Linked DNA regions of Homo sapiens: regions 2, 3 and 4 are each linked to region 1. The links come from fine-mapping of genetic effects on gene expression. A gene starts in region 1. Each other region holds a variant in brackets. All regions are shown on one strand. Distances are between the middles of the regions.

The links. PIP is the estimated chance that this variant, and not a neighbour inherited with it, causes the effect. A credible set is the group of variants that fine-mapping cannot tell apart.
Region 2: its variant is the best candidate, but not a certain one, in a credible set for the expression of ARRDC2 in whole blood (TOPMed, PIP 0.52).
Region 3: its variant is the best candidate, but not a certain one, in a credible set for the expression of ARRDC2 in whole blood (INTERVAL, PIP 0.66).
Region 4: its variant is the best candidate, but not a certain one, in a credible set for the expression of ARRDC2 in thyroid (GTEx, PIP 0.56).

What each region holds. Positions count from the first base shown.
Region 1 is chr19:18,004,260-18,011,543 of GRCh38, reverse strand. ARRDC2 (arrestin domain containing 2) reads right to left here and starts at 3,374. Exons shown (of 8, transcript NM_015683.2): 1 at 2,960-3,374; 2 at 2,767-2,833; 3 at 2,426-2,573; 4 at 1,850-1,952; 5 at 1,505-1,761; 6 at 1,186-1,348; 7 at 815-972. The coding sequence starts at 3,233. RefSeq lists an enhancer at 3,101-3,320.
Region 2 is chr19:17,950,047-17,957,330 of GRCh38, reverse strand. It overlaps a transcript of KCNN1 not described here. Among named protein-coding and RNA genes, the nearest start is that of KCNN1, 13 kb to the left of the region's middle. RefSeq lists enhancers at 4,270-4,887, 4,888-5,505, 5,506-6,124 and a silencer at 5,075-5,124. The variant G/A (reference allele first, on the strand shown) is at 4,181.
Region 3 is chr19:17,983,402-17,990,685 of GRCh38, reverse strand. KCNN1 (potassium calcium-activated channel subfamily N member 1) reads right to left here. Exons shown (of 10, transcript NM_001386974.1): 5 at 5,233-5,374; 6 at 2,161-2,271; 7 at 843-970. Among named protein-coding and RNA genes, the nearest start is that of KCNN1, 20 kb to the right of the region's middle. RefSeq lists enhancers at 1,657-2,156, 2,157-2,658, 5,625-6,306. The variant C/A (reference allele first, on the strand shown) is at 3,876.
Region 4 is chr19:18,026,212-18,033,495 of GRCh38, reverse strand. It overlaps the pseudogene CSP3. Among named protein-coding and RNA genes, the nearest start is that of ARRDC2, 22 kb to the right of the region's middle. The variant A/T (reference allele first, on the strand shown) is at 3,312.

The sequences.
Region 1 (7,284 bases):
TTTTCAAATGTCTCTGACCCATGTTTGGTTGAATCTGCAGATTCCAAACCAGCTAACGCAGAGGGCCGACTGTATGTAGCGAAATTCTGTCAACAATTAAAATCCTCTGCCAGCCGGGCACAGTGGCTGACGCCTGTAATCCCAGCACTTTGGGGAGGCCAAGATGGGAGGATCATTTGAGCCCAGGAGTTCAAGACCAGCCTGGGCAACACAGTGAGACCACATTTCTACAAAAAATACAAAAATTGGCCGGGCGTGGTAGCTCACGCATATAATCCCAGCACTTTGGGATGCCGAGGCAGGCCATCACCTGAGGTCAGGAGTTCAAGACCAGCCTGACCAACATGGTGAAACCCCGTCTCTACTAAAAATACAAAAATTAGCCACGTGTGGTGGCTAACACCTGTAATCCCAGCTACTCGGAAGGCTGAGGCAGGAGAATCGCTCTACCAGGGATGCGGAAGTTGAAGTGAGCTGAGATCGCACCATTGCACTCCAGCCTGGGTGACAAGACTGAAACTCCATCTCAAAAAGCAAAGCAAAACAAAACAAAACACAAAAATTAGCAGGATGTGGTGGCGTGTGCCTGTAGTCCCAGCTACTCAAGAGGCTGAGGCGAAAGGATTGCTTGAGCCCGGGAGGTCGAGGCTGCAGTGAGCTATGATTATGCCACTGCACTCCAGCCTGGGTGACAGAGCAAGACCCTGTCTAAAAAAACAAAAAAACAAAAAAAACCCATCTACTATGTCTGCCACCCCATCAAGGCTCCCAGGGCCCAGAGAGGCATGGGTGGTTCTCAGACCCCTGAGCTCACCTCAGAGTACAGGGGTGGCGGGCGGTAGCGGAACTCTTGGATGTAGGCGAAGAACGGGCCTTCAAGGCTCATGTCGGGGTCCTGCGGAAGCGGGAAGGGGCTCTGCCCCAAGGCTGCCTCCTCAGTGTCGGCTACCACCTCCGAGTACTCAGGAGGAGCTGGAAGCGAGAGACAGGGTGGGTGAGGTTGGCAGGAGAGAGCCCTGCTCCAAGGGACCAGGGGCCAGGAGCTGGCTTGTGCCAGCTCTGGGGCTGCCAGGCTGTATGTCCTTTGGTTGGGATTCCGGGGGACTCGTGGTGAGAGAGTTGACCCGGCATCCACCTCTCCGTGTATCCACCCACCCTCTGCATGCAAGCAGGGTGGGAGCTTACCCTCAGGCCGCTCCGGCAAGGCCCCCAGCCTCCAGTCCAGCAGGAAGCTGGCGTGGCTGCCCACGCTGGAGGAACGGCTGCCAAAAGGGTGCAAGGGAATGGTGCCGATCACCAGTGGCAGCTCCAGCAGCAGCTTGGACGTTCCTGGGATATCCACACAGACCTGGAGGAAGGAACCATAAGGGAGGGTGCCCAGGCAGCCTCCCCAACCCCCACCTCCCTCCTATGCCTGGGGAGACTGAGGCCTCAGCTTCCCCCAGTCTGAGGGAATACAGGGTGAATGTAGGCACTGTCCCCCAGGGCCAGCAGGATGCCCTACCTTGAGTGCGTAGTCCACGTGTAGAACGCGGCAGTGCAGGATGGAAGGACCCACTGGGGGGATCCGCAGTGCCCGGCCCTGCCACAGCGCCCGCTGCCCGGGGCCCACCGGCTCGCCCGCGAGGCTGGCCACCACTGCCCGTTTCTGCTTTCGGGCGCCTCGGGCCATGAACGTCTGTGTCTGCACCACGGCTGCCCGAGGCAGCACAGGACGTGTGGAGCCGTTGTCGATCTCGGCAAAGACAGGGATGACCTCTCCTGCAGCAAGGAGCAGTGGGGCCTCAGTTTCCCCTCCTGCAACCCCAACACCAGCCCCCGTCCCAACCCAGTCCGGTCCGCCTGCTACCTGGGGTGTAGCCCTTGCGGTCGATCTTGGCCGAAAGGGAGACTAGGCCACGGTTACAGTACCAGGATCGGGCAACCTTTTCCCGAGCCCCCGCTTGAGGTGCCTGTCGGTGTAGAGGAAAGTGACATGGATGAGTCACTTTGTGCAAACCACAGTCGCTGTGGAGCTTCCAAACCACCCCCAGCTGAGGGAGGACTTTGGGCAGGGCTTGGTTTCTTTTTAACAATCCAGGAACTATCCGTTAAATAGAGCCAGGAACACAACCCATCTTATAAAGCCAGAAATGAAATGTATAAGCCAAGTGTTTGGTGTGTAATTCACACTTGGTAAGCCCTAGCTCTGGTCTATTTCACAGAAGAGGCATCTGAGGCTCAGAGAGGGCTTCAAGACACTTGCCCAGAGTCACACGGCAAATGGGTGCAGATCCCAGTGGATTCCACACGCATTCCCACACCTGCCTCCCTCCCTGCCAGGGCCCACCTATGACCTCCATCTTATTGGTTGGTGTCGCCCAGCAGCCAGGCAGGCCCCTTCCTACAATACTCCCAACCTACCTCCCCAAGGGTGGCCACTCACCAGCAGGGCTGGCGTGTTGATGTCCACAGGCTCGATGACAGTGAACACCTTCCTTGCCCGGCGTGCTGGGACCCAGGGCCGGTGCAGGGTGGCCTTGATACAGTAGCGGACACTACCGTGTTTGCCCTCGAAGGATGTCACCAGGGTCCTAGGGTGGAGGGACGGGACTTCAGGGGACAAGATACAGAGACAAGCAGGCAGGGAGAAGGAGACACAGACACTCCGGGGGCCTCCCAGGGGGAGAGTCTTGGGGCTCAGAGGTGCCCAGATATCCAGTATTGGAGGTACCAATCTGGAAGGGGCTGCAGGCTTAGGGCAACCCTGCACCCCAGAGGACTTACGGGGGCAGCTGGAAGCTGAACAGGAACTCATGGCGCCCAGGAGGCAGCGTCGTGGTCTCCCCGGTATCTGCAGGTAGGAGAAAAAGGAGGCGACTGAGCGGTTGCGCTGGGGTCCCAGGGCTGACGGAGGTACCGCCGTCCAGGTGGTGGGAGGCACACAACTGGTGTTGGAGCAGGGGTCCTCCATCCGTACCTGGCGCCAGGAGCGTGGCGCGGTGGCTCACGACCTCCACGCGTTCACTGTAGCTCTGCGTGTAAGCCGTGCTCGAGCCCGCGCTGCGCGACTCGGTCCAGTGCACGTGGGCGCGGCCCCGCGCGCGCAGCCTCAGGGCACCCACACGCGCGGCGCTTGACAGCTCCAGCAGCACCCGGCCCGCCACGGCCTGGCCGCCGCTAAACACGGGCTCGACGCCCGCGGTCGCGCCGTCCAACTGCACCGAGAACGCTTTCACCTTGTCGAATAGCATCGCGTCCGGGGTGCGAACCCACGACAGGCGGAACCTGGCCTCGAACTCGCGAACCGGCAGCTCAAGATGCCGACGCTGCAGCCTCAGAACGCAAAATCGCCGTCAACGCGCAGGCGCGCTCACCAACCGGAGCAGAAAATCCCCGCGCCGTGCGTCGGCGCCGCTTTTATACGGCAGGGCGGGGGGGGGTGGGGTCACCGTCTCTTCCCCGCCCCGGGAAGGGACTCCACCAATAGCGCGACAAGGGGCGTGGCTCTGCCCAGGCGTGGAGCAAAATAACAAACGCCCCTGCTCACCGCCGGCTGCCCCCTTCCCTCGCGGACCCCGGGGAGAAACTGAAGCCCTTAGGCTGCCAGAGCTGGTCTCTCGCGGACCCCGGGGGTAAAGAGGAAAAAAAGAGGTGCAGAGGCAGGGCCCAGGCCTGAGGTCACCTAGCAGAGCCTTCAGCCTCTCGGCTTAATCACTCACCAGCCGCCCCTCGTTGACGTGACTCGAGGCATGTCCAGCCCGATTTGGGGCGGGGGACTCTCGCCCCAGTTGAGGGCCAGAGAGCCTATGACTGTTCCAGGCCTGTTTCCCCCGCTATGCAAAGGGAGAAGTGGAGGAGGTGGGTGGGACCGCCCTCCACACTGGTGCCTGCTGCACCCCTTTCCTGATTCAAGTCCCGCTTAGCTGGTGGCTCTGGGCAAATGACAACCTCTTGGAGCCTCAGTTTCCACCTCTGTAGAGCCGGGAGAAAGTAAAAATCAGTCCTGACCTCAGAAGGTTGTGCATGGATCATCGTGCAGCCCCAGCTGGACTCCTCCAAGAGCCTCGCTCCCGGGTCATCAACCTGCTCTTGACATACCGTCACTCGGTCGCGCCTCGGCGCATTCGCCCAGGAGCGGTACCTACGAAATGATGTTCCCTTCCCAATTTTCAGCCTCTGGCAAACCCTACCTTCCCCGCAGCCCTTGTGCCTGCTCCAGTCATCCTCAGCCCCCGTCCCGCCACAGAGCTGAATGCAGGGGACGCTCGGGCACCCCCAGGTCCACAGCTGCGGTGTGGCCACGGGACGGCGTGACCTCTCTCTGGGCTTCAGTTTCCCCAAAGAAAAGTCGCATGGAGTTTCTCCAGCGGGAGTTGCCTCTGCGTCGTCTGCGGGACGCTGGCGCCCTCTCGTGGCAGCGTAATGCGCTGCCGCTGAACCCATCCCCTGCCGTGACTGTCCGCCTCTGAGCCTGGCTCAGGAGACTTCCACCACCTCAGTGAGGTGTGTGGGTGGAGGGGGCGGTCATAAACAAACACGGTCACCCTCAGCCCGTGATGGGGATCGGAACAGGAACGACGGAGTTGGAGGCACAGTGATCAGCCTGGAAGGCTGCCTGGGAGGATGGGTCTTTGGAGTTGAAAGGAAGGTCTGGGACCTTAGGCCAGGTTTCAATGGATACTAGAGGGGAGACAGTAGGCCGTTAAGTCCGGGAGGAGAAGCGGGATTAGGTAACCCTGAAGGGACTACTGAGCCAGCGCCTCCCTCAATTCATTTCGCAGACGGACCCCAAAGGCCCAGAGATGGGTGGGGCTCTGCCCGAGGTCACACAGCACCTCCACTGGCCTCGCCCCTCCAGTGTCACTGTTTTTTCCTTAAATGTATAACAATTTAACAATTTTTAAGCTCCCTCTCCCTCTCCCTCTCCCCTTGGTCTCCCTCTCCCTCTCTTTCCACGGTCTCCCTCTCATGCCGAGCAGAAGCTGGACTGTGCTGCTGCCATCTCGGCTCACTGCAACCTCCCTGCCTGATTCTCCTGTCTCAGCCTGCCGAGTGCCTGCGATTGCAGGCGCGCGCCGCCACGCCTGACTGGTTTTTTTGGTGGAGAAGGGGTTTCGCTGTGTTGGCCCGGCTGGTCTCCAGCTCCTAACCTCGAGTGATCCACCAGCCTCAGCCTCCCGAGGTGCCGGGATTGCAGACAGAGTCTCGTTAACTCAGTGCTCAATGGTGCCCAGGCTGGAGTGCAGTGGCGTGATCTCGGCTCGCTACAACCTCCACCTCCCAGCCGCCTGCCTTGGCCTCCCAAAGTGCCGAGATTGCAGCCTCTGCCCGGCCGCCACCCCGTCTGGGAAGTGAGGAGCGTCTCTGCCTGACCGCCCATCGTCTGGGATGTGAGGAGCCCCTCTGCCTGGCTGCCCAGTCTGGAAAGTGAGGAGCGTCTCTGCCCGGCCGCCATCCCACCTAGGAAGTGAGGAGCGCCTCTTCCCGGCCGCCATCCCATCTACGAAGTGAGGAGCGTCTCTGCCCGGCCGCCCATCGTCTGAGATGTGGGGAGCGCCTCTGCCCCGCCGCCCCGTCTGGGATGTGAGGAGAGCCTCGGCCCGGCCGCGACCCCGTCTGGGAGGTGAGGAGCGTCTCTGCCCGGCCGCCCCGTCTGAGAAGTGAGGAGCCCCTCCGCCCGGCAGCCGCCCCGTCTGAGAAGTGAGGAGCCCCTCCGCCCGGCTGCCACCCCGTCTGGGAAGTGAGGAGCTTCTCCGCCCGGCAGCCACCCCGTCCAGGAGGGAGGTGGGGGGTCAGCCCCCGCCAAGCCAGTCGCCCCGTCTGGGAGGGAGGCGGGGGGTCAGCCCCCCACCCAGCCAGCCGCCCCATCCGGGAGGGAGGTGGGGGGGTCAGCCCCCTGCCCGGCCAGCCGCCCCGTCCGGGAGGGAGGTCGGGGGGTCAGCCCCCCACCCGGCCAGCCGCCCCGTCCGGGAGGTGAGGGGGCACCTCTGCCCGGCCGCCCCTACTGGGAAGTGAGGAGCCCCTCTGCCCGGCCACCACCCCGTCTGGGAGGTGTACCCAACAGCTCATTGAGAACGGGCCATGATGACAATGGCGGTTTTGTGGAATAGAAAGGGGGGAAAGGTGGGGAAAAGATTGAGAAATCGGATGGTTGCCGTGTCTGTGTAGAAAGAGGTAGACATGGGAGACTTTTCATTTTGTTCTGTACTAAGAAAAATTCTTCTGCTTTGTGATCCTGTTGATCGGTGACCCTACCCCCAACCCTGTGCTCTCTGAAACATGTGCTGTGTCCACTCAGGGTTAAATGGATTAAGGGTGGTGCAAGATGTGCTTTGTTAAACAGATGCTTGAAGGCAGCATGCTCGTTAAGAGTCATCACCACTCCCTAATCTCAAGTACCCAGGGACACAAACACTCTGCCTAGGAAAACCAGAGACCTTTGTTCACCTGTTTATCTGCTGACCTTCCCTCCACTATTGTCCTATGACCCTGCCAAATCCCCCTCTGCAAGAAACACCCAAGAATGATCAATTAAAAAAAAAAAATTTTTTTTAAATTTGCTTTTCTTTTTTTTTTTGAGACAGGATCTCACTCTGTTGCCCAGGCTGGAGTGCAGTGGCGCGATCTAGGTTCACTGCAACCTCTGCCTCCCTTCCACCTCAGCCTCCCGAGTAGCCGGGATTACAGGTGTGTACCACCATGCCCCGCTAATTTTTGTATTTTTTGTAAAGATGGGGTTTCACCATGTTGCCCAGGCTGGTCTTGAACTCTTGAGCTCAAGCGATCTGCCCGCCTCAGCCTCCCAAAGTGCTGGGATTACAGGTGTGAGCCACTGCACCCAGCCAAAATTTTAATTTTTTTTTTTTTTGAGACAGGGTCTCACTCTGCTCTGACACCCAGGCTGTAGTGCAGTGGCACCATCTTGGCTCACTGCAACCTCCACCTTCCGGGTTCCAGCGATTCTCCTGCCTTAGCCCCCTGAGTAGCTGGGAGAATTTAAAAATTAGCCCACCTTGGCCGGGCGCGGTGGCTCACGCCTGTAATCCCAGCACTTTGGGAGGCCGAGGCAGGCGGATCACCTGAGGTCAGGAGTTCGAGACCAGCCTGACCAACATGGAGACACCCCGTCTCTACTAAAGATACAAAATTTACCGGGTGTGGTGGCGCATGCCTGTAATCCCAGCTACTTGGGAGGCTGAGGCAGGAGAAACACTTGAACCTGGGAGGTGGAGGTTGCAGTGAGGCGAGATCATGCCATTGCACTCCAGCCTGGGCAACAAGAGTGAAATTCCGCCTAAAAAA
Region 2 (7,284 bases), 54 kb after region 1:
CCTTCCTTCTTTTTTTCTCTCTCCCTCCCTCCTACCCTCCCTCTCTCTCTTCTCCCTTTCCCTTTCCCCTTTCCCTTTCCCTTTCCCCTTCCCCACCATCCCCTCCCCTCCCCTCCCCTCTCCTCTCCTCCCCTCTCCTCCCCTCTCCTCTCCTCCCCTCTCCTCTCCTTTTTTTCTCTCTCTCCCTCCATCCTTTCCTTCCTTCCTTCCTCCCTCCCTCTGTCCCTCCCTCCCTCCCTTTCTCTGTTTTTTGTTTTTTTGTTTTGTTTTGTTTTGTTTTTTGAGACAGTCTCGCTTTGTCGCCAGGCTGGAGTGCAGTGCTGCAATTTCGGCTCACTGCAACCTCCAACTCCCTGGTTCAAGCGATTCTCCTGCCTGCCTCAGCCTCCTGAGTAGCTAGGATTACAGGCACTCCCGACATCACCCCTGGCTAATTTTTTGTATTTAGTAGAGACGGGGTTTCACCATGCAGGATGGTCTCTATCCCCAGACCTCATTATCCGCCCACCTCGGCCTCCCAAAGTGCTGGGATTACAGGCATGAGCCACCACACCTGGCCCCCTTTCTCTCTTTCTCGCTTTCTTTCTGAGACAGAGTCTCACTGTCACCCAGACTACAGTACAGTGGTTCAATCATAGCCCACTGTATCCTCGACCTCTTGGGCTCAAGTGATCCCCCCATCTCAGCCTCCAGAGTAGCTGGGACCACACACATGCACCACCCCACTGGTTAATTTAAAAAAAAAAAAATTGTAGAGATGGGTTCTTGCTACATTGCCCAGGCTGGTCTCAAGCTCCTGAGCTCAAGTGATCCTCCTGTCTTGGCCTCCCAAAGTTCTGGGATCACAGGCATCAGCCACTGTATCCAGCACAAAACACTTAAGCTTAATTGATGCCCCATGAAATTCCACAAGGGCTGACCTGGGCTGGCCTTTGTCCTTATTGCATCCCAGCATCCAGCCTAGGGCCTGGCAGACAGTAGCTAGCTTGCTCAGTGTTTGTTGATTGACTAAATGACCACCACCTCTGTTTTCTCCACACCCCCATGGGCAGCTTAGTGCTGACCCTGGATGTCAGTCAGTGTTCACCAAGGAGGCCTGGCTCAGTGGCTCACGCCTGCAATCCCAGCACTTTGGGAGGCCAAGACAGGTGGATCACCTGAGGTCAGGAGTTCGAGACCAGCCCGGCCAACATGGGGAAACCCCATCTCTACTGAAAACACAAAAATTAGCTGTGCGTGGTGACGCATGCCTGTAATCCCAGCTACTTGGGAGGCTGAAGCAGGAGAATCGCTTGAACCCGGTGGGGTGGAGGGTGGAGGTTGCAGTGAGCCAAGATCATGCCACTGCGCTCCAGCCTGGGCGACAGAGTCAGACTCTGTCTCAAAACAAACAAACAAAACAAAACAAAACAAAACTAAAAAAAAAAAGTTCACTGGAGAAAGGAGCACAGGAGCTGCCTTCCACAGAGCTGGCCTACCCTGGGGGCTGTCTCCAGCGAGACCACGAGAGCCGGGAAGTAGAGGCTGTGTGTGGGGGGCGGGGGCGGGAGTGGTGGGACAGAGCTCTTCCAACCTGGCTCAACACCCCACTTCTAGGTCATCTGGCCTCTCTGAATAGTTTCCCCAACTCCAGTGATCAAAGAAAGTGGACAGTAACTCCCCGGAGGCTCTAGAAAGCATAGTCCTTGCTATCATCATCATGATATATATGATATAATAATAATTATATTATTATTTTTTTTCTTTCTTTCTTTTTTTTTTTTTTTTTGGAGATGGAGTTTCACTCTTGTTGCCCAGGCTGGAGTGCAATGGCACAATCTCGGCTCACTGCAACTTCCGCCTCCTGGGTTCAAGTGATTCTCCTGCCTTAGCCTCCCAAGTAGCTGGGATTACAGGCATGCAGCACCATGCCTGGCTAATTTTGTATTTTTAGTAGAGATGGGGGTTTCACCCTGTTGGCCAGGCTGGTCTCGAACTCCTGACCTCAGGTGATCTGCCTGCCTTGGCCTCCCAAAGTGCTGGGATTACAAGCGTAAGCCACCACGTCTGGCCTTTTTTCTTTTTTTTTTTTTTAATTAAAGAGATGGGGGTCTCGCTCTGTCGCCTAGGCTGGAGTGCAGTGGCCATTCACAAGCGTGATCATAGCTCACTGCAGCCTCGAACTCCTGGACTCGATACTCCCACCTTAGCCTTCCGAGTAGCTAGGACCACAGGTGCACGCCACTGTACCCAGCTTGTTATTATTTCAAAAGCTGGCACTTTTTCCTCAGGTCACCTTTTTTTTTTTTTTTTTGAAACAGAGCTTTGCTCTGTCGCCCAGGCTGGAGTGCAGTGGCGCGATCTTGGCTCACTGCAACCTCTGCCTCCCGGATTCAAGTGGTCCTCCTGCCTCAGCCTCCCAAGTAGCTAGGATTGCAGGTGCCCACCACCATCCCCGGGCAATTTTTGTATTTTTAGTAGACACGGGGTTTCGCCATGTCGGCCAAACTGGCCTCAAACTCCTGACCTCAAGTGATCCACCTGCCTCAGCCTCCCAAAGTGCTGGGATTACAGGCGTGAGCCACCTAGCCTGCCCAGTTACCAATTTTTCTATCCAACCCCTGAGCCACCCCCACCCCCAAAGGCGACCCAAGTCTGGGATTCACTCACCCTAGGGTGCAGGGGTCTCCTCGCCGAGCCACTGCAAAGGGGCTGTCCCCTTCAGTCCTGCTGGTGACCACTTGACTGGGAGAGAGGGTGGCTGCTGCTGCCTTTCCTGTCCCTTTGAGATCTGTAATGATCAGACAGGGGGTGCGGGGTGGAGGCGGGGACCCAAAAGAGTAGGGTGCAGACAGCTCCCGGACTACAGTGGTCTTTCTTATTTTTTATTTTTTTGAGACAGAGTCTTGCTCTGTCACCCAGGCTGGAGTGTAGTGATGTGATCTCAGCTCACTGCAACTGCCGCCTCCAGGGTTCAAACAATTCTCCTGCCTCAGCCTCCCAAGCATCTGGGATTACAGGTGCCTGCCACCATGCCCGGCTACTTTTTGTATTTTTAGTAGAGATGGGGTTTTGCTGTGTTGGCCAGGCTGGACTTGAACTCCTGGCCAGAGGTGATTCACCTGCTTCAGCCTATTACGTACAATGGTCTTTACAGCAGATCTGCGCTCTGGCTTGGTGTTGCTGAGCTGGGTCATCTCCTAAGCTTTCAGGAAGCTTAAGAACAGTGGCTTTATCACTCCAATGGGGCCCTGGGCTAGCCCCACCTCTTCCATGTCCCCTCCCTAAGGCCACTCCTCCTTTCACTGGGCTCCAGAAGCTAGACACTGAATGCTTTATCTGTCTTTCCCAATGCTGTTCCTGCTCACCCCCTCACATTGCCCCTAGTTCCTTCGCCATGGGGAGATCTAGGTGGGTGACATTCAGGGAGGTGACATTTTGTCACCCAGGCTGGAGTGCAGTCGCATGAACATGGCTCACTGCAGCCTTGACTTCCCGGGCTCAAGCGATCCTCCCACCTTCGGCCCCCAAGTAGCTTGGACTACAAGTGTGCACCACTACACCTGGCTAATTTTTTTAATTTTTTGTAGAGACAGGGTTTCAGTACGTTGCCCAGGCTGGTCTCGAACTCCTGAGCTTGCCTCGCCCTTCCAAAGTGTTGGGATTACAGTTGTGAACCACCTCGCTTGGCAGAGCAGCTGAACTCTTGCTCCCCAGCTCTGAAGCTGCCCTGGGAGCCTGTAGCTCCCTTGGCGTGCTCCCTCCATCTATTTAGTGCTGTCTGCAGAGGGCTTATAGAAGCACATGGTACCCAAGTCCGATCCTGGAGAAGAGGGCAGAAAAGGACACCCCATGGAGGGCAGGGGCAATGCCAGACCCCAGAACAGGACTGAAGGGGAAACCCCCAGCTGCCCTTTCTCTCACCAGGACCTGGGATCGGGGCAATGGTCACCTTGGATGGCTCAGGGGCCACCTGTTCCAGCCAGGGGGACTTGGTGCTGACCCTAGCCTTGGGAGGGCAGGGCCTTGTCCAAGGTCACTCAGCGGGTTGCTGCGTCGGAGTAAAAATTATCTCCTCCGTGGCTCCAGAAGCTTTGACTTCCCCATCTATAAGCCCCCTCCCCCCAGGGATTTCCTTTGATGAGGTCTTGGGCAGCCTGAGGAGGCTGGGAGCGGGGGCACACGGGGGACAAGAGGAGGT[G/A]AGATCTGGGAGCCCCGGAAGAGAGCGAGGCCGGGGCTTCTTGGCTCAGTCCTGTCTGGGTCTCTAGCCAGAGGAGAAACTTGGAGAAAGTAAGGAATCCCCCCAGTTCTGGGGCCCTGGCAACCCACGCTCAGGGTTAAACGGCGGCGGGGGCAGAGGATCCCAAAGCTGACCTCCCCAGCTGGGTCCCGGGATTCGTGGATCTGACCAGAAACCTGCTCTGCCCCAGCCCAGCTGGGTGACCTTGGGCGAGTGGTAACCCTCTCTGGGCCTCAGCCCCTCCTCCTGTCCGGGAGAGGGGAGGGGGGAAGGGAGGGAGCTTAGGGAAAAGAACAGGAACCCGGAGCCCAGCGCACAGTAGGCTGGCAGGTGGGGGGTTCCCTCCTACTGCGCAGCCTGGCCAGCACAGGGAATCCCCGCCACAACGCAAGGAGAAAGGGAGAAACCTGAGGGGACAGAGAGGGAGGAGGGGGCAACGGGAACCAGCGGTGCTTTCCCCCCACCACTGAGGAGGGTGCAGGCGTGGAGGATCCCCATGTCCCCACCTTCACCTCGCGGAGGGAGGGGGATGTCTGCGCTTCCCCAGACCTGGAAGCAGGAACCCCCTCCTCACAGGGCATGGGGGTGGGGTCAGGAGCTGACTCCCGGGATCGGTGTTGGAGGCGGGGGTTGAAGAAGGGATGTCCCCCTCCTCCCGCAGCTCCCCTTTGAATTCCCGGAGTCGGGCAAGCTTTGACCAATCCGCCCACCAAAGAGAAGGGGACCGCCGCCGGGACCGAACGCTCCCCGCCGTGCCCCCCACTGCCACTCACCGGCCGGAGTCGGCCGCCGCAGCCGGAGTCCCTGCGCCCTGCCCGAGCGCGAAGACAAGTGCACGGCCGGGCAAGGGCGTGTGAGCCGGGAGGGTGTGCGCGCGCCGCCGCAGAGCCGACCCCCTCCCCGCCGACCTGGGCCCCGCCCCGCCGCCCGGGGAGGGGGCGCGGACCCCGCAGGCCGAGGGAGGCAGTCCGTCGCGGCCACAGCCGGGGCCCTCCCCCCCGCAAGGCGTCTCCTCTAAAGCAGGGATGGAATCCCCCTCCAGGTCTCTCGCCAAAGCCCACTCTCCCCCCTCCACCCAGGGGCGTGACAGCAAATCTTAGAAGACGGTCAAAGAGATGGGAGGACCCTCTGCCGCCTCTGGCCCAAGGTGCTCATCTTACAGACGGGGAAACTGAGGCCCGGAGAGCGGAAGCCCCTGGCCAGGGCCCAGTGTCCCAGCAGCACGGAACAGGGCTGCTCCCCTCACTCTGGGGGGCCGCTCTCTCAGCTCCGGGAAAGAAGAGAGTCAGGGAGAGAGGAAGGCAGACAATTAAAGCCTCCCCACCACGCCACTGGGGAGGATCGGGGGACCCAGAGGCTTCGGGCAGCTGGCGACGTTGACCGGGCTGGAAGGTCCCAGCTAGGAAGGGGGAGCCTGGGTGGCCAGAACCAAACCACAGAAAACTTCTCTATTTCATTGTTGGGCTGGTGACACCCTCCCCCCAACCTGCGCGATTAGGAACCTCTTGAGCCTGACTGGCCCGGGCTTGGGTGGCAGAGTTGTGAAGGTCACTCTGCCACCTTAGAACAATGTGGCTCGCGGGGTCTGGCTCGGTAGGGGATGGGAGGGAGAAGTCCAGGGGCAAGCCCTTTCCGTGACCTCGGCCCTGCCAAGCCCCTTTCTGAGCCTCAGTTTCCCTTCAGCGAACGGACAAGTGCCCACCTCCGGGGTCCCTCCAGCTCTCCGAGTCCGTAGGGCCGCCGGATATGTCTTGCTGTTCTCCTTCAGCTGCCCCCTCCAACAGAAAGCGTGGCTCCAGCTCAGACCACCGTGTTCCTCCTCGAAGTCCCCTGCTCCGCCCCGTCTCTGAACCCCCACCCACCTTCAGCCTTGGTGGGGACCTTCAGCCACCTTCAGGCAGGGGACAGGGAGGGGGGTTCCTCTTGGAAGCAGGGAGGCTTCTACAAACCTCCATTCTGGTTTTTGTTTTTTGTTTTTTTTCCTCTCTTTTCTTCCATTCATTCTAAAAATAGCCCTCCCCCCTCCCCAGCCCCCCGGCGGGGAGCCTCTCTGGAAAGGTAACGAGCTTCCCGGGCGGGGTCTGGAGGCCGGGATTCCGTGGCGCGGGCGGGGCTCGGGGACGCCGATACTGAGAGGAGGGGAAACTGGGAGCGCACCCCCCACCCCCATTGTGTGTGAGATGCGCTCAGAGGGAGCCGCCGGTGTGACCGTGACCGTGTGGAGGGAAAAAGAACAAAGGGGAGGAGGCCTTCGGGTCTGCACTGTGGAGGCAGAGAGCCGGTGGGTTCGCAGGAGCCGAGGACAAGGGGTGCCACCCAACACCCTCCCCGGGGGGGACTTCCCGCCCCTGTTGGGGAAGGCTGCGACCCATGCTTTAGTCAGACACAGTGAAGGAGAGTCAGGCTGCAGAAGTGACAAGGACACCCATGATCAGGGGATTCCCCCACGCCCCGTGGACCCCACAATCGCCCAGTGGAGCCCGAAAATCCTCCCCACTCCCGCGGCTCCTCCTGTCCCCGCCACAGTCCTTCTCCCTGACGCAGCCACAGACTTCAGTCCTCACCCGTGTGACAGGTCACGTCCCTGTCCCGCATGACCGCCCTCCCCCCACCTCCCTTCTCTTCTTGAACCAAGAGGAGCACCCTGACTCCTCACAGGCCGACGCGGTCTGCCCCCCACAACGCCCACCCTTTGTTCCAATCCCTCCGCGGTCTCCCTGGACCGCCCACCACATTCTGGACACGCCCAGCTTCTCCCCCTAACCGGTTCAGCCTCAGAGCCTTTGCATCTGCGGTTTCTTGGGCCGGGATCGCCCTTCCCTGGCTCTCCTCACCCCCTGTTCCCACAGGGCTCTTCAGGGCTCCATCCAAGGTCGCCTCTTCCCTAGAGTCGCCCCTTCTCTGGGCACGTCGCCCTGGTTTACTGTTCTCACTGCCCTCAAGCCCTGGTGTGAACTTGCTTGCTCTTTCATCTTCTCCTCTCTCCGCCCCTGGGAATGAGGGGCCAGGTGCAACTTGGTCCTAGCTGATGGGAGGAGAGGGCCGCTCCCGACCCAGCACCACCC
Region 3 (7,284 bases), 21 kb after region 1:
TGGGACTACAGGCGTCCGCCACCACGCCCGGCTAATTTTTTGTATTTTTAGTAGAGACGAGGTTTCACTGTGTTAGCCAGGATGGTCTTGATCTCCTGACCTCGTGATCCACCCACCTCGGCCTCCCAAAGTGCTGGGATTACAGGCGTGAGCCACCGCGCCCGGCCTTTTTTTTCTTTTTCTTTTCTTTCTTTTTTTTTTTTTGAGACAAGGTCTCACTTTGTAACCCAGCTGAGTGCAGTGGCGCAATCATGGCTCACTGCAGCCTTGACCCTGCAGACTCAAGTGATCCTTCCACCTCAGCCTCCCGAGTATCTGGGACCACAGAGGCACACCACCACACCCAGTTAAGTTCTTAGTTTTTGTAGAGATGGGGTCTCCCTGTATTGCCACGGATGGTGTTGAACTCCTGGACTCAAGCGATCTTCCTGCCTCCCAAAGTGCTGGGATTACAGGCATGAGCCACCGCACCTGGCCCAATTCATTTCTAGTTATCCTACATGATCCCATGGATCAGACCATGGATTTAACTATGAGCCTCCTGGCAGACAAAGCAAAAAGAGGAAATCGCTTCAAAGTCTAAAGGGTAAGAATTATCCTGGTTATTCCAGAGAATAAAATATACATCCTGCCACTTACTGAGTCGTGTCCATGATTTAGCAGACCCCATCATCTGCCTCCCTCTGAAGATCCTCCCATCCACCCAGCTCAGAAGATGCAGGCCCCAACCAACTGACCACCCGTCCCTGGCAGGGAGCCGTGAAGAGGCCACACAGAGCTGCGAGGGCTGCCTCCGCGCCATGTGGACACAGAAACGTGAGCTGGAAAGGTGCTGGACTTACTGATGGATGGCTTGGAGGAACTTACGCTGGTGTTTCCGAACCCGGGCTTGGTCTGGCTTCTTCACCAGCCTGGTATGTTTGTAGATGAGCCACGTCTCCCTGAGAACGTTAGCAGCGGCGTTTTTTACCTGGGGCCAGAAAAAGAACAATTCCTCAGGGTTGGCGCGAAATTCCAAAAGGCTCCAGAAATGTCTAGAATCTTCCAGAAACCTCTAGAAACTTCTGGAAATGCCTCTCAGGGTCCCTGGGCTATAAGGCAGGGCCATGCTTGTACAACAACATCTGTGCAGTGTGTGTATACCTAACACACATCACTCATGATGGGCCAGGCCCCTTCTATGCACCATGCAAATGTTTTTAATGTTTTTTGTTTGTTTGTTTGTTTGTTTGTTTTTTGAGGCTCTGTGGCCCAGACTGGAATGCAGTGGCATGATCTTGCCTCACTGCGACCTCCACCTCTCAGGTTCAAGTGATTCTTCTGCCTCACTCTCCCTAGTAGCTGGGATTACAGGCGCCTGCGATCACGCTCAGCTAATTTTTGTATTTTTACTAGAGATGGGGTTTCATCACGTTGGCCAGGCTGGTTTTGAACTCCTGACCTCAAGTGATCCGCCCGCCTCGGCCTCCTAAAGTGCTGGGATTACAGGCGTGAGCCACCGCGCCCGGCCATGATGCAGATGTTAACTCAGTGAATCGGCATGTGTTTTTATTTCCCTGATTTTCTATATGGGGAAGCTGAGGTACAGAGCAGTCAACCCGCTAGGGTCAGGCAGCTCTCAAATTGCATATGGCGGTCTGGCTCAAGCCTCTTACTGAATGCTCATGGCTGGACGTGACTGGGCACAAGGGTTGATGCCACGATGTCTCTCTGTGCATTACTCACAGATGGGTGCGTGGTGGCAGAGCCAAGCACAGTCCTTTTTTTTTTTTTTTTAAACGGAGTCTTGCTCTGTCACCCAGGTTCGAGTGCAGTGGTGCCATCTTGGCTTATTGCAGCCTCTGCTTCCCAGGCTCAAGCGATTCTCCTGCCTCAGACTCCCAAGTGGATGGGACTACAGGCGTCCGTCACCATGCCAGGCTAATTTTTGTATTTTTAGTAGAGATGGGATTTTGCCATGTTGGCCAGGCTGGTCTCGAACTCCTGGCCTTAGGTGATCCACCTGCCTTGGCCTCCCAAAGCCAGCACAGTCTTGACACGGGGCTGCATGGTAACCCATGGGCACATGAGCATGCCCGGCACGTACAGAGGGAAAGCAGGGAAGTTCTACGCTCGCTGACAAGGCCAGGAGGCGGCCTCCATGGGAACCGCGGTCCTCACCCGCTTGGTGAGCTGAGTGTCCATCATGAAGTTGTGCACGTGCTTCTCAGCCTTGGTGAGCTCCAGCTTCCGAGCCACCACAGCCACCACGAGCGCGGTACAGCCAGCTCCCTGTGTGCAGGGCAGAGGGGGCACATCAGCGTCCTGTCTTGAGGTCACTCCCTCCTCCAGGAAGCCTGCCCAGATTGCAGCCTCCCCATTCTCTGAGCCAGCAGTGTGAGTGGATTCCATCTGCTGAGCTCACTGACTTCAGGTCTACTCGTTTCCTATTCATCAAATGTCAGAGGGAACCATGTCCCACACATTAGCTCATTCGACCCCCAACAACTCCAGGAGGTAGGACGATTCTTTTTTTTTTTTTTTTTTTTTTTGAGATGGAGTCTCGCTCTGTCGCCCAGGCTGGAGTGCAGTGGCACAATCTCAGCTGACTGCAACCTCCACTTCCCAGGTTCAAGCGATTCTCCTGCCTCAGCCTCCTGAGTAGCTGGAACTAGAAGCGTGCACCACCACATCCCGCTAATTGTGTGTGTGTGTGTGTGTGTTTGTTTAGTAAAGGGGGGGTTTCACCATGTTGGTCAGGCTGGTCTCGAACTCCTGACAGGTGATCCACCCGCCTTGGCCTCCCAAAGTGCTGGGAGTACAGGTGTAAGCCACTGCGCCTGGCCCTGTTTTTTTTTTTTTTTTTTTTTGGTAGCGATATGGGGTCTCACTATGTTGCCCAGGCTGGTCTCGGACACCTGGCCTCAAATGATCCACCCACCTCGGCCTCCCAAAGTGCTGGGATTACAGGCATGAGCCATTACCATGCCCAGCCCCAGGCAGGTTTAGATGCCAACACCCTGAGCCTGAGCAGGGTTGGCCTAGAGCACAAGCAGGGGCTCCCGGAGGAAACCCTGTCTCGGTTTCCAGGCCAGGACAAAGGTTTTGAGAGGACCCAGAAGCCTGTTCTCAGGAAAATCCCTGTCAACTGGGACAGAGTGACTTGCTGGAAACCTCCACCTAGAATACTAGACAGCAAGGAAAAGGAATGGACAACGGCTCTGCAACAGCATGATGCACCACACAGATGCTACAGGGAGGGACCCATGCTGGGCTGCCAGCAAAAAAGCAGACACGGACCAGGTGCAGTGGCTTGCACCTGTAATCCCAGCACTTTGGGAGGCCAAGGTGGGTGGATCACCTGAGGTCAAGAGTTCGAGACCAGCCTGGTCGACATGGTGAAACCCTGTCTGTACTAAAAATACAAAAATTAGCTGGGCCTGGTGGCAGGTGCCTGCCATCCCAGCTACTCAGGAGGCTGAAGCAGGAGAATCGCTTGAACCTGGGAGGGGAAGGTTGCAGTGAGCTGAGATCACGCCACTGCATTCCAGCCTGGGCGACAGAGCGAGACTCTATCTCAAAAAAAAAAAAGAAAAAAAGGGCCAGCGTGGTGGCGTCATGCCTGTAATCCCAGCACCTTGGGAGGCTGAGGCAGGTGGATTATCTGAGGTTGGGAGTTCAAGACCAGACTGGCCAGCATGATGAAACCCTGTCTATACTAAAAATAGAAAAATTAGCCGAGCCTGGTGGCAGGCGCCTGTAATTCCAGCTACTCAGGAAGCTGAGGCAGGAGAATGGCTTGAACCCGGGAGGCGGAGGTTGCAGTGAGCTGGGATCGTGCCGTTGCACTCCAGGCTGGGCAACAGAGTGAGACTCCATCTCAATGAGGAAAAAAA[C/A]AAAGTCAGGCATGGGCCAGGTGCAGTTGCTTAGGCCTGTAACTCCAGCACCTTGGGAGGCCCAAGCAGGAGGATCACTTGAGCCCAGGAGTTCATGACCAGCCTGGGCAACATAGTGAGACCCCATCTTTATAAAAACATAAAAATAAAACATGGAAAAGCGTTTGTTGGCATGGGCATAAAACATGTCTGGAGAGAAAGAAGGCTCTGGAAAGAGGGGATGGACAGGGACCCCGATGACTGAATTAGGGAAAAGAGAAAGCAGTGAGTGTGAAAGGATGTTCACAGGCACCCACGGCAGACTTGAGAATCCTTCGGGGAGACGGGGTGCTGCCTGCGCCCACTGTCACGAAAAACTCAGGGAACACCCCGAAAGTCAGCTAAGGAAGGGAGTTTGGGCTGCAGAGGACACAGCCCAGCAGGTTTCTTTTTTCTTTTTTTTTTTTTTGAGACTTAGTTCACTCTGGTTGCCCAGGCTGGAGTGCAATGACGTGATCTCCGCTCACCACAACCTCTGCCTCCTGGGTTCAAGCAATTCTCATGCCTCAGCCTCCCTAGTAGCTGGGATTACAGGCACCCACCACCACGCCCGGCTAATTTTGTATTTTTAGTACAGACTGGGTCTCACCACGTTGGCCAGGCTGGTCTTGAACTCCTGACCTCGTGATCCACCCGCCTTGGCCTCCCAAAGTACTGGGATTACAGGTGTGAGCCACCACTCCCGGCTATTTTTGTATTTTTAGTAGAGACAGGGTTTCTCCATGTTGGTCACAGGCTGATCTCAAACTCCCAACCTCAGGTGATCTGCCCACCTTGGCCTCCCAAAGTGCTGGGATTACAGGCATGAGCCACCACGCCCGGCCCCCAGCAGGTAGTTATAGCATGTCCATGGCATTCACAGTTCTGGGATTCTCACATAAATAACCGACTTAGCCCTTGCAAAGCAGAGGAAGTAGCGCTGGTCACAGCTGAGGAAACTAAGGCACATCAGCATCAAGCCCCTTGCCCTGGATCCAAAGGCTGTGAATAAATCAGGCTGTAGAGAATAAAGGGGTGACAGTGACTCTCTGGTCAGAGTGGACCGCAGCTTCTTACTGGGCAGGCATGGTGGGAGCTGCATATCTAGGCCTGGAAGGACCGCATGGAGATGTCCCAGGAAGCCTGTGGGTGTGGCTTCCACGTGACGTCAGAGGAAAAGAGCAGAGCAGGGGAGGGGTGGACTGACAGATGGAGGGACGCTGATCAGGCACAGCTCGTGATGGGATGAGCACCCTGTCAGCAAGGGGTATGCAAGGGCTGGTGGAGCGGGCAGCTGGCTGGACCTCCCAGGATCATACACATGGACCCTCACCCTTACCATGATGCCAGTGAGCAGGCACACACCCTTCCCGCAGTAGGTGTGGGGCACCATGTCGCCGTAGCCAATGGAGAGGAAGGTGATGGAAATCAGCCACATGGCCCCCAGGAAGTTGCTGGTCACTTCCTGCTTGTCGTGGTACCTGGGGGAGCCAGAGTGGGAAGAGGGAGGGCTCAGTCTATACCATCCCCTTTGCCTCCATCACACCCCCTGGGGCAGCGCCAGGGCTGGAGGGCCCTGAGTCCACCTCGCTGCGTTGGGGCTATGTCCTGTGGGTACAGGACAGGCGCACCCTCTCCCCCGCTACAGCCCTTCCACATTCCCTTTGCCTGCCCCCCCAAGCTGCTTCCCTGGATGGGGCAGAGAGGGGCCCAGGTGAGGTTGTATGAACATACAATCCCCCTCCCAACGACAGACACACACAGACAGGGGGATGGGTGACCACAGCACCAGAAGCAGCAGGAGGTGGAGGCAAGAATTCAGGACAGACACCAGGAAGAACTTTCTCAGCCAGCAAGGCCCCAAGGAGGGAGGAGGACTGGAGGAGGTGGGAGGCTGGAGGATCACCACCTGGGGCTCGAGTGAAGAAGGGACGTCCATATAGGAAGGACATAGACTGGAGGACAGCATGAGTCCCCCAACTCAGCCTATGTTGCATCTGGGGGTTGGGAAGAGAGGGGCATCGGCTTTGGCACTGGGGAGATGCCTGGGGCTATATTTGGGACCCAGGGAGACAGGCCCCAAGACTGACAGAACTTAGTCCTGGTCACAGCCAGGCTTGGGACTTCGGCCAGAGGGGCTGCAAAGAGGTTCTGCCTGTGGCCATGCTAGCGGGCCGAGGGCTTGGCTCTCTGGGTCTGGGGGTGGCTCTAGGATCTGTTCCCACTCAGCTCTCAGTCCCCAAATCCCCTTGGCCTTTTTCTGGAGACTGGGCCCCCTCTGACCTGGCTTCCAGCTAACCCACTCCTTCCCAGGGCTTAGATCACCTGAGCCCCAAGCCAGCCTCTGGGGTGTTCAAGGTCAGAGGCCAACTGGGGTAGCACCGAGGAAGTGGCCTGGATAGAGCAGGATCTTCAGGGGAGGCCTGTGCCAGGCACAGTGGGTGACACAGCCCAAGGATAGGGCTGGGGTCAGGCTCCAGAGGGAAGGAGATGGGGGCTCCCCAAATATTGGCATTTGGGGGTCTTCACTCCCGCGGAAGTCGAATGCCACTCCAGGCACCTCCAGTCTGGGCTTCTAGGACACTTGCTGGGTAAAGGCCCAGGGACTGACCCTATCTTTTTTTTTTTTTGAGACAATATCTCTCTCTGTTGCCCAGGCTGGAGTGTAGTGGCATGATCTTGGCTCACTGCAACCTACACCTCCCGGGTTCAAGCGATTCTCCTGCTTCAGCCTCCCGAGTAGCTGGGACTACACGCGCCCGCCACCATGCCCATCTAATTTTTTTTTTTTGTATTTTTAGTAGAGACAGGGTTTCACCATGTTAGCCAGGATGGTCTCAATCTCCTGACCTGGTAATCCACCCGCCTCGGCCTCCCAAAGTGCTGGGATTACAGGCATGAGCCACGGTGCCCAGCTGACTGACCCCCATCTTACACCAAAACATCTGAGCCCCAAGCTGCCTGACCCCCAGAGGGCAGGAGGGGCGGGGGGGTGCCCTCTAGTCGGTGGGTGGGTGAGCCCCAGATCCAGACGGAGCGATGGTGGGGGGTGCCGCGGGACCACCCAGGAGCACGGCTGGGGGACATGCGGGAGGCGGGGGTGGGTCAGAGCGAGGCAGGCAAGGGGGCTTCAAGCATTGTCGCCAGGCTCAGAATTTAGGATTGGCTGCCTGCCGGCCCTGCCCCGTGCCCCACCCCCCCAGAGCCCTGCAAGGACCCAGCTTGGACCTCAGGGATACCTGACGAGGGGCACCCCATACCCCTAACCCTAGTTCTGACCCCACCCATCAGGGGTGTGAGAGCTGCATGGGGGAACATCAAGAGCCCAAGGAGAGCCCTGGAAGCCTTAACAGCCAGAGAAACTGGGCCTTTCATCCCTGAGAGCCAGGCC
Region 4 (7,284 bases), 22 kb before region 1:
ACTCCAGTGATCGAATCACCTCTTAAAGGTCCCACCTCTCAACACTATTGCTTTGAGGATTTTTTTTTTCATTGTTAATTAAAACATTTATTTTGCATTTTATACAGAACAACCTGAAGTCTGCATCATGACTTGACAGTTAGCCAGGGGTTTACAGTGTGTCCAACTCAACAGTGTGGTTCTGGGACTGGGTATCCACACAAACACAGGCAGGAGTTTGGAGGAAAGATGGGGGCACAGCAGGAGCGTATCTCAATCCTTTCTCAAAGAAAAAGAAGTAGAGCATTCTGAGTTGCTGAAAACCTGTGCAAATGGGGCTTCTGAAACAAACATTGTACTGTGAGCTCTCAGGGAAAGGGAGGAAAAAGATGTTGATAAATAAGGAGGCAATTTCTTGAGGCAGGGGACGAGGAAGGAGGCTTACTATTTTTAATGCCCTCAGCCCCAGTACCTGATAATCAGAGGAGACCATGTCCAATCTTGAATCAATTCTCTGTTCAAAAAGAGGTGCTAATACCCCAGGGACAAGACTCTGAAAATATCATGCTGGTCATTCCGGAGTCCCTGTTCTATGCCCCACAGCATATTAAAAGCTGGGGGTTGGTGGGGGGTGGGGAGGTCAGAAGGTAGTGGCTTGTATTCTGTTGGAAGTAAAAAACTTAGTTCACATTAAGCACTGATAAAACCCAATGACTGGGCCCACAGATCTGTTGAGAGGTCTCTAGTAGGGACTAAGAGGGGGAGGTCCAGAACATCCTCAGCCTGAGGTGAAACAGGTGTAGAAAGTCTGGGAGGGGGGTGAGTATTAAAGTAATGGGAAACAGAACACTCCCAGACCTTAATTTTAATTGGATAGTTTAAAAAAAAAATCAAACATTGGGTGCCAGTCACAACAAATGCCATGCCTTTATGGTCACTTGGCAGTATAAAAAAATTGCCAAAGCATGTCCAGCTAACCAACAGGTCTTGCTAGGAGGTGTTTGTGTGCATGGGAAGGCCAAGGGGCTTGGTACAGCTGACTATCCAACATGATTCCTATGGAAACAGAAGGGGCAGAGTCCTGGTTTGCTGGCTTATTGAGGGCTTGGCAGAGAAGAAGCTAAAGCTCCGAAGTGACTGCAGATTCTCTGCAACCGGCTTTGAGCCATGGAAACAGGAGCCAGATTCTCACTCTAGAGATAGTGAGGGGGCCAAACCTACTCATACCACATGCATTAGTCCTGGTCATCCTCCAGGACCATGCCTGTGATGGGCAACTCATACCAGGCAGGGGAAAGGAGCTGATTAGGGAAGAAGGGACCATTTTTCATCTTTTAAAGTCTTAATTTATATTTTAACCTCAAACATATTATCAGTGCCTCAGATATAATTTAATCTTAAGTCTTTAAAGGCCCCCTGAAACAAAAGTATACTTTTTATTTAGGCTTCCTCACTTTCTGGTAGTCACTTTCCCCCAGTCTCCAGTTTTACCCTGACTTAGAGTCCACAAACTTCATCAGACCCTCTGTGCTCATGGACTTGGGCCTTTCTAGAGGGAAGCCTAAGGCTCGGCTCCAGATGAGCTGTGCCAGTACACCCAATGCTCGTGACACCCCAAACAGGACTGTGTAGTAATTCATCTCCATCATGCCATAATACTGGAGCAGCACCCCACTGTGAGCATCTACATTGGGCCAAGGATTCTTGGCCTTACCCTGCTCTAAGAGGACATTGGGCACAATCTTGCATAGCTGAGCAACCAACTTAAACATGGGGTCATTAGGCAGGTGTTTCAGAGCAAACTCTCGCTGACAGGTATATCGTGGATCAGTCTTCCTTAGTACTGCATGGCCATAGCCTGGAACAGCCCGTCCTGAGTTGAGTGTGTTCCAGATGTAGTCTCATAACTTCTCATCTGACACATCTTTGCCAACTTCCTTCTGCAGCTGTGTTAGCCAGACAAGCACTTCCTGATTTGCCAGTCCATGGAGAGGCCCTGCCAGCCCGTTCATGGCTGCTGCAAAGGACAGGTAAGGGTCTGAAAGGCCACTGCCCACCAAGTGGCTGGTATGGGCACTTACATTGCCGCCCTCATGGTCACTGTGGATAGTGAGGTACAGGTGCATGAGCTCAGGGAACTGATGATCAGTATAGCCTAACATGTTGGTGAAACTGTGAGACCAGTCCAGGTTAGAGTCAATGGCCCCAATACCACTGCCTTCTCCATAGAGATTTCGGTAGATCTTTGCTGCGACACAAGGTAGCTTTGTGATTAGATCCACAGAGTCTTCATAAATCAACTCCCAGTACTTGGTTCGGCTGATACCCCGTGCATATGCTTGGGCAAAGTTACTTTCACTGTTGAGGGCTGTAACAGCTGCACTGAGCTGAGACATGGGGTGTAGATTGGTGGGAAAGTTGTCCAGCATGGTGACCACATGGGAAGGCAGAGCTGCCCTCTTTGCCCACTCTTTTGAGAGCCAAGATACCTGTTCCTCTGTTGGGATACATCCAGTTACCAGCAGCCAAAATAAGCCCTCAGGCAGGGGTTCTTCCCCACCCTTAGCCTTGGGTAGCAGTTTCTGGCATTCAGGGATACTAAAGCCTCAGAAACGGATGCCCTCATCAGGATCAAGAACTGATGTTTCATAGACCAATCCCTTCATGCCTCTCATGCCACCATACATCATGTCCACAGTGATTTGGCCCACCACCTTCTTGCCATGTTGCTGCCTGAAGGTCTTAATTCTGGCCTGCTCCTTAGGTATGAGGTCAGCCAATATGTCTTTCAAATTCATGGAGGAAGCACTGGCATGCTGGGCTGCAAGAACAAGACAAGATGCATTCTTGGTTCCCAAGAGCCGGGCGGCCGCAGTAAGTAAAGCCATGGCGGGCGATCTCCGGGATCTGGTGGGGAGGTAAGAAGGGGAGAGAGCTGCGGCAGGAACAGGAGCCGCCGCCACTGCACCAGAGGCCGCGCCGACAGGTTGACAAGGTTGAAAGGACTGCTTTGAGGATTAAGTTTCAAACATATGAACTTTGGGGGACCATTCAAACCATAGCATCAATGAATAATTTTTTTTTAGTATAAGTATATCCCAAATGTTGCATGGGATATACTTACAGTAAAACCAAATTCAATATTGATCTGAACTTCACATTTAGCTGAGTAGCCTATATTTTATCTGGCAACCTGGCTTCACCATCATGCCCATTTTACAGATGAGGTGGCAGAGGCCCAGAAAGGTTAAGTAATGTGCCTGAGGCAGCACAGCCAGGGACAAGCAGAAGGAGAATCTAACCAGGATCATGGGTCCCACAGCCTTCAGGGG[A/T]CTCATTCCCCACCCTGGCTAGAGGTGGCCGCAGGAGAGAAGCCCAGCTTGCCAGGACCTCAGTACCCTGTAAACACCTGGAGAGGTGCCAATCCTACCCGCCATCTGGACTTGGGTATCTGGAAGTGGGGCTGACTCATCCCCTGTAAACAGCCAGTCTCCTGTCACTGTAAACAGCTGGCATCTAGAGACGCTGTCACAGTGCCCAACTCACAGTGTGACATCCATGACCCGATACTTTGCCATCAGCCTGTCACTCGATACTTAGTAAACAGTATCCTGAGAGTGGACAGTAGTTGGTGGTTACCGCGGTGCCGTGGGCCCCAAGGCAGGGTTGGACTTAAACCCAGGTTCTGACACCTGATTAGCCATCAGAGCTTGCTGTGTTCTGATACTTTGTGAAAAAAGACTAATCCTGATACTTGCTATCTGTCAATGATGAAACCCTGTTAGCCATAAACCTGTCCTCATATTTTATCAGCTGGTAACTTTAAACAAAGTTCTGATACTCTGTAAACACAAATCATGACACTTATGACCCATCAGGGGTTGGTAAACTTCAGCTTTAACCATGACCCCAAAACAGTATTCAATTTTTTTTCCGTTTTTTTTTTTTTTTTTTTTTTTGAGACAGAGTCTCACTCTGTCGCCCAGGCTGGAATGCAGCAGCGTAATCTCGGCTCACTGCAACCTCTGCCTCCCAGGTTCAAGCTAATCTCCCACCTCAGCCTCCCGAGTAGCTGGGACCACACCCAGATAATTACTGTATTTTTAGTAGAGACAGGGTTTCACCATGTTGGCCAGGCTGGTCTAGAACTCCTGGTCTCAAGTGATCCGCCTGCCCCAGCCTCCCAAAGTGCTGCTGGGATTATAGGTGTGAGCCACCGCTCCTGGCTCCTTTTTTTTTTTTTTTTTTTGAGATGGGTTTCACTCTTATCCCCCAGGCTGGAATGCAGTGCCTTCATCTCGGTTCACTGCAACCTCCACCTCCTGGGTTCAAGCGATTCTCCTGCCTCACCCTCCCGAGTAGCTGGGATTATAGGCGCCTGCCACCACGCCCAGCTAGTTTGGGTTTTTTTTTTTTTTTACTTTCTTTCTTGTATTTTCAGTGGAGACAGGGTTTCACCATGTTGGCCAGGATGGTCTCCATGACCGGCCCTGGCTCCCTCCTTTTTTTTAGAGACAAGATCTCTCTCAGTCACCCAAGCTAGAATGCAGTGGCGGGATCATAGCTCACTGCAGCTTCGAACTCCCAGGCTTAAGTGATCCTCCCACCTCAGCCTACTGAATAGCTGAGACTACAGGCATCCCAGCTAATTTTTAAAACTTTTTGTAAGGATGGAGGAGGGGGTCTCCCTATGTTGCCCAGGCTGGTCTTGAACTCCTGGCCTCAAACGGTCCTCTCACTTCAGCTTCCCCAAGCACTGGGATTACAGGCAAGAACCACCATACCTGGCCTACATTTTAAAATGACTGAAAAACTACCAGAGGAAGACTATTTGATGACATGTGAAAATTACATGAAATTCACACTTGAGTGTCCATGAACAAAGTTTTCCTGGGATACAGCCATGCTCACTTATTTGTGTATATGAATGCTTTCAAACAGCCGCAGCGTAGAGTAATTGCAAAAGAGACTGTGTAGCCGGCAAAGCTTCAAATATTTCCTATCTGGCCCTTTATAGAAAATGTTTGCCTATTCCTGATCTAAGCTCTTGGGCAGTCACTGTTCTTTATATTGAATTTAATACTCTGTTAATAGTCAATGGTCCACAGTGGTCACATGCAATGCAAACTGTGAGTCTTTTTACTCTGTAAAAGTCATATCCTAGACCGGGCATGGTGGCTCACGCCTGTAATCCCAGCACTTTGGGAGGCCAAGGTCGGGACTTTGAGACCAGCCTGATCAACATGGAGAAACCCCATCTCTATTAAAAATAAATACAAAATTAGATGGGTGTGGTGGCACATGCCTGTAATCCCAGCTACTAGGGAGGCTGAGACAGGAGAATCACTTGAACCCAGGAGGCGGAGGTTGCAGTGAGCTGAGATCGTGCCATTGCACTCCAGCCTGGGCAACAAGAGCGAAACTCCGTCTCAAAAAACAAAACAACAAACAAAAAAAGTCATATCCTAATGGGCGTGGCGGCTCATGCCTGTAATCCAACACGTTGGGAGGCAGAGTGGGGAGGAATCGTTTGAGTCCAGGAGTTCGAGACCAGGCTGGTCAACATGGTGAGACCTGTCTCTACAAAAAATTAAAAAAAAAAAAACTTAGCCAGGTGTGGTGCTGTGTGCCTGTAGTCCCAGCTACTCAGGAGACTGAGGTAGGAGGATCGCATGAGCCCAGAGGTCGAGGCTGCGTGAGCCATGACTGTACCACTGCACTCCAACTTGGGCGACAGAGTGAGACCTCATCTCTATAAAAAATAAATAAATTAGCTGAGTGTGGTAGTGTGCGTAGTCCCAGCTACTCGGGAGGCTAAGGTGGGAGGATCGCTTGAGCCCGGAGGTTGAGGCTGCAGTGAACCATGATTGCACCACTGTACTCCAGCCTGGGTGAAAGAGCCAGACACAGTCTCTTAACAACAACAATAAAAGTCGTATTCAGCCTGATGTTCTGACAAGATTAATGCAATGAACATTTGGTTTCTGACAGCAGTTAGTGTGTCCTGGGACTGTGTCAATGGTCAATACTGGGAAACATAACCAAGATGAGACCCAAAGAGTGACTGAGAATTAGACAAAGGAAAAATGATCTTGCCACACTCAGGCTGGACTGTGACTGCTGAGCTGAGGAGCTGGACTTTCTCCTGAGGGTAATAGGGAGCCACGGAGGGTGTGTGAGCAGAGGAGGGACATGCTCAACCTGGACACAGGGACGGGATTGCTTCTGACCTTGGATATCCCTTCCATGCAATGGGCTGAGGTGGCCAAAATAAAGACCTTTCCAGGCCTGGGGTCTGAAAGGAAAGGGCACTTGAAGTTGCGATGTTAGGACTTCGTGGGAGAAGCCAGTGTGCAAATAACTGAGCAGGGACTTCTGTTCCTCCCCTGCCAAGCAGGCTCCAGGGGCTGCTCACACAGTGTGATCTGGGGCCAGGAGGCTAGGGATGAGGCCAGAAGACTCCTCTTTAGGAGTCCAGGACCAGTGGGTCAAGGTCTTACTCTGAGCTTCATTAATCCATCATACACTAATTGAGCAGCTACTGAGGGAGGGCCCTTGTCTTCCACCTCCCCATTCCTGGCTCTCTGCATCTTGTGCAGGCACTCTCATTTAGCATACTGCATTTATTTTTATATTATTTATTTATTTTAGAGATAGGGTCCCATTCTGCTGGAGTGCAGTGGTGCAATCACGGCTCACTGCAGCCTCAACCTCCTGGGCTCAAACAATCCTCCCACCTCAGTCTCCCCAGTAGCTAGGACTACAGGTGTGTGCCACCATGCCTGGCTAATTTTTTTTATTTTTATTTTTAGTAGAGATGGGGCTTCACCATGTTGCTCAGGCTGGTCTCAAAGTCCTGGCCTCAAGGGATCCTCCCATCTCAGCCTCCCAAAGTGCTTTATACAGGCATGAGCCACCACACCCAGCCAGTAAATTTATTGAGCACCTACTGCATGCTATGACCCGCCCTCTTGGAGCTCCCAGTACCGAGGGGAGGTGGAAGACAGGCCGTGAACCTGTCAATACATTGTAATCACAAACTGTGAGAAAGGCAAAGCAAGGAATTGGAAGGAACTGAGAGGGAGAATAGGGCAGCTTTTGTGAAAGAGGTGAAAGGAGCCAAGCACAGTGGTTCACACCTGTAATCCTAGCACTTTGGGAGGCTGAGGTGGGTGGATCACTGGAGGTCAGGAGTTCAAGACCAGCCTGGCCAACATGTTGAAACCCCGTCTCTACTAAAAACACAAAAATTAGGCTGGGCGCGGTGGCTCACGCCTGTAATCCCAGCACTTTGGGAGACCGAGG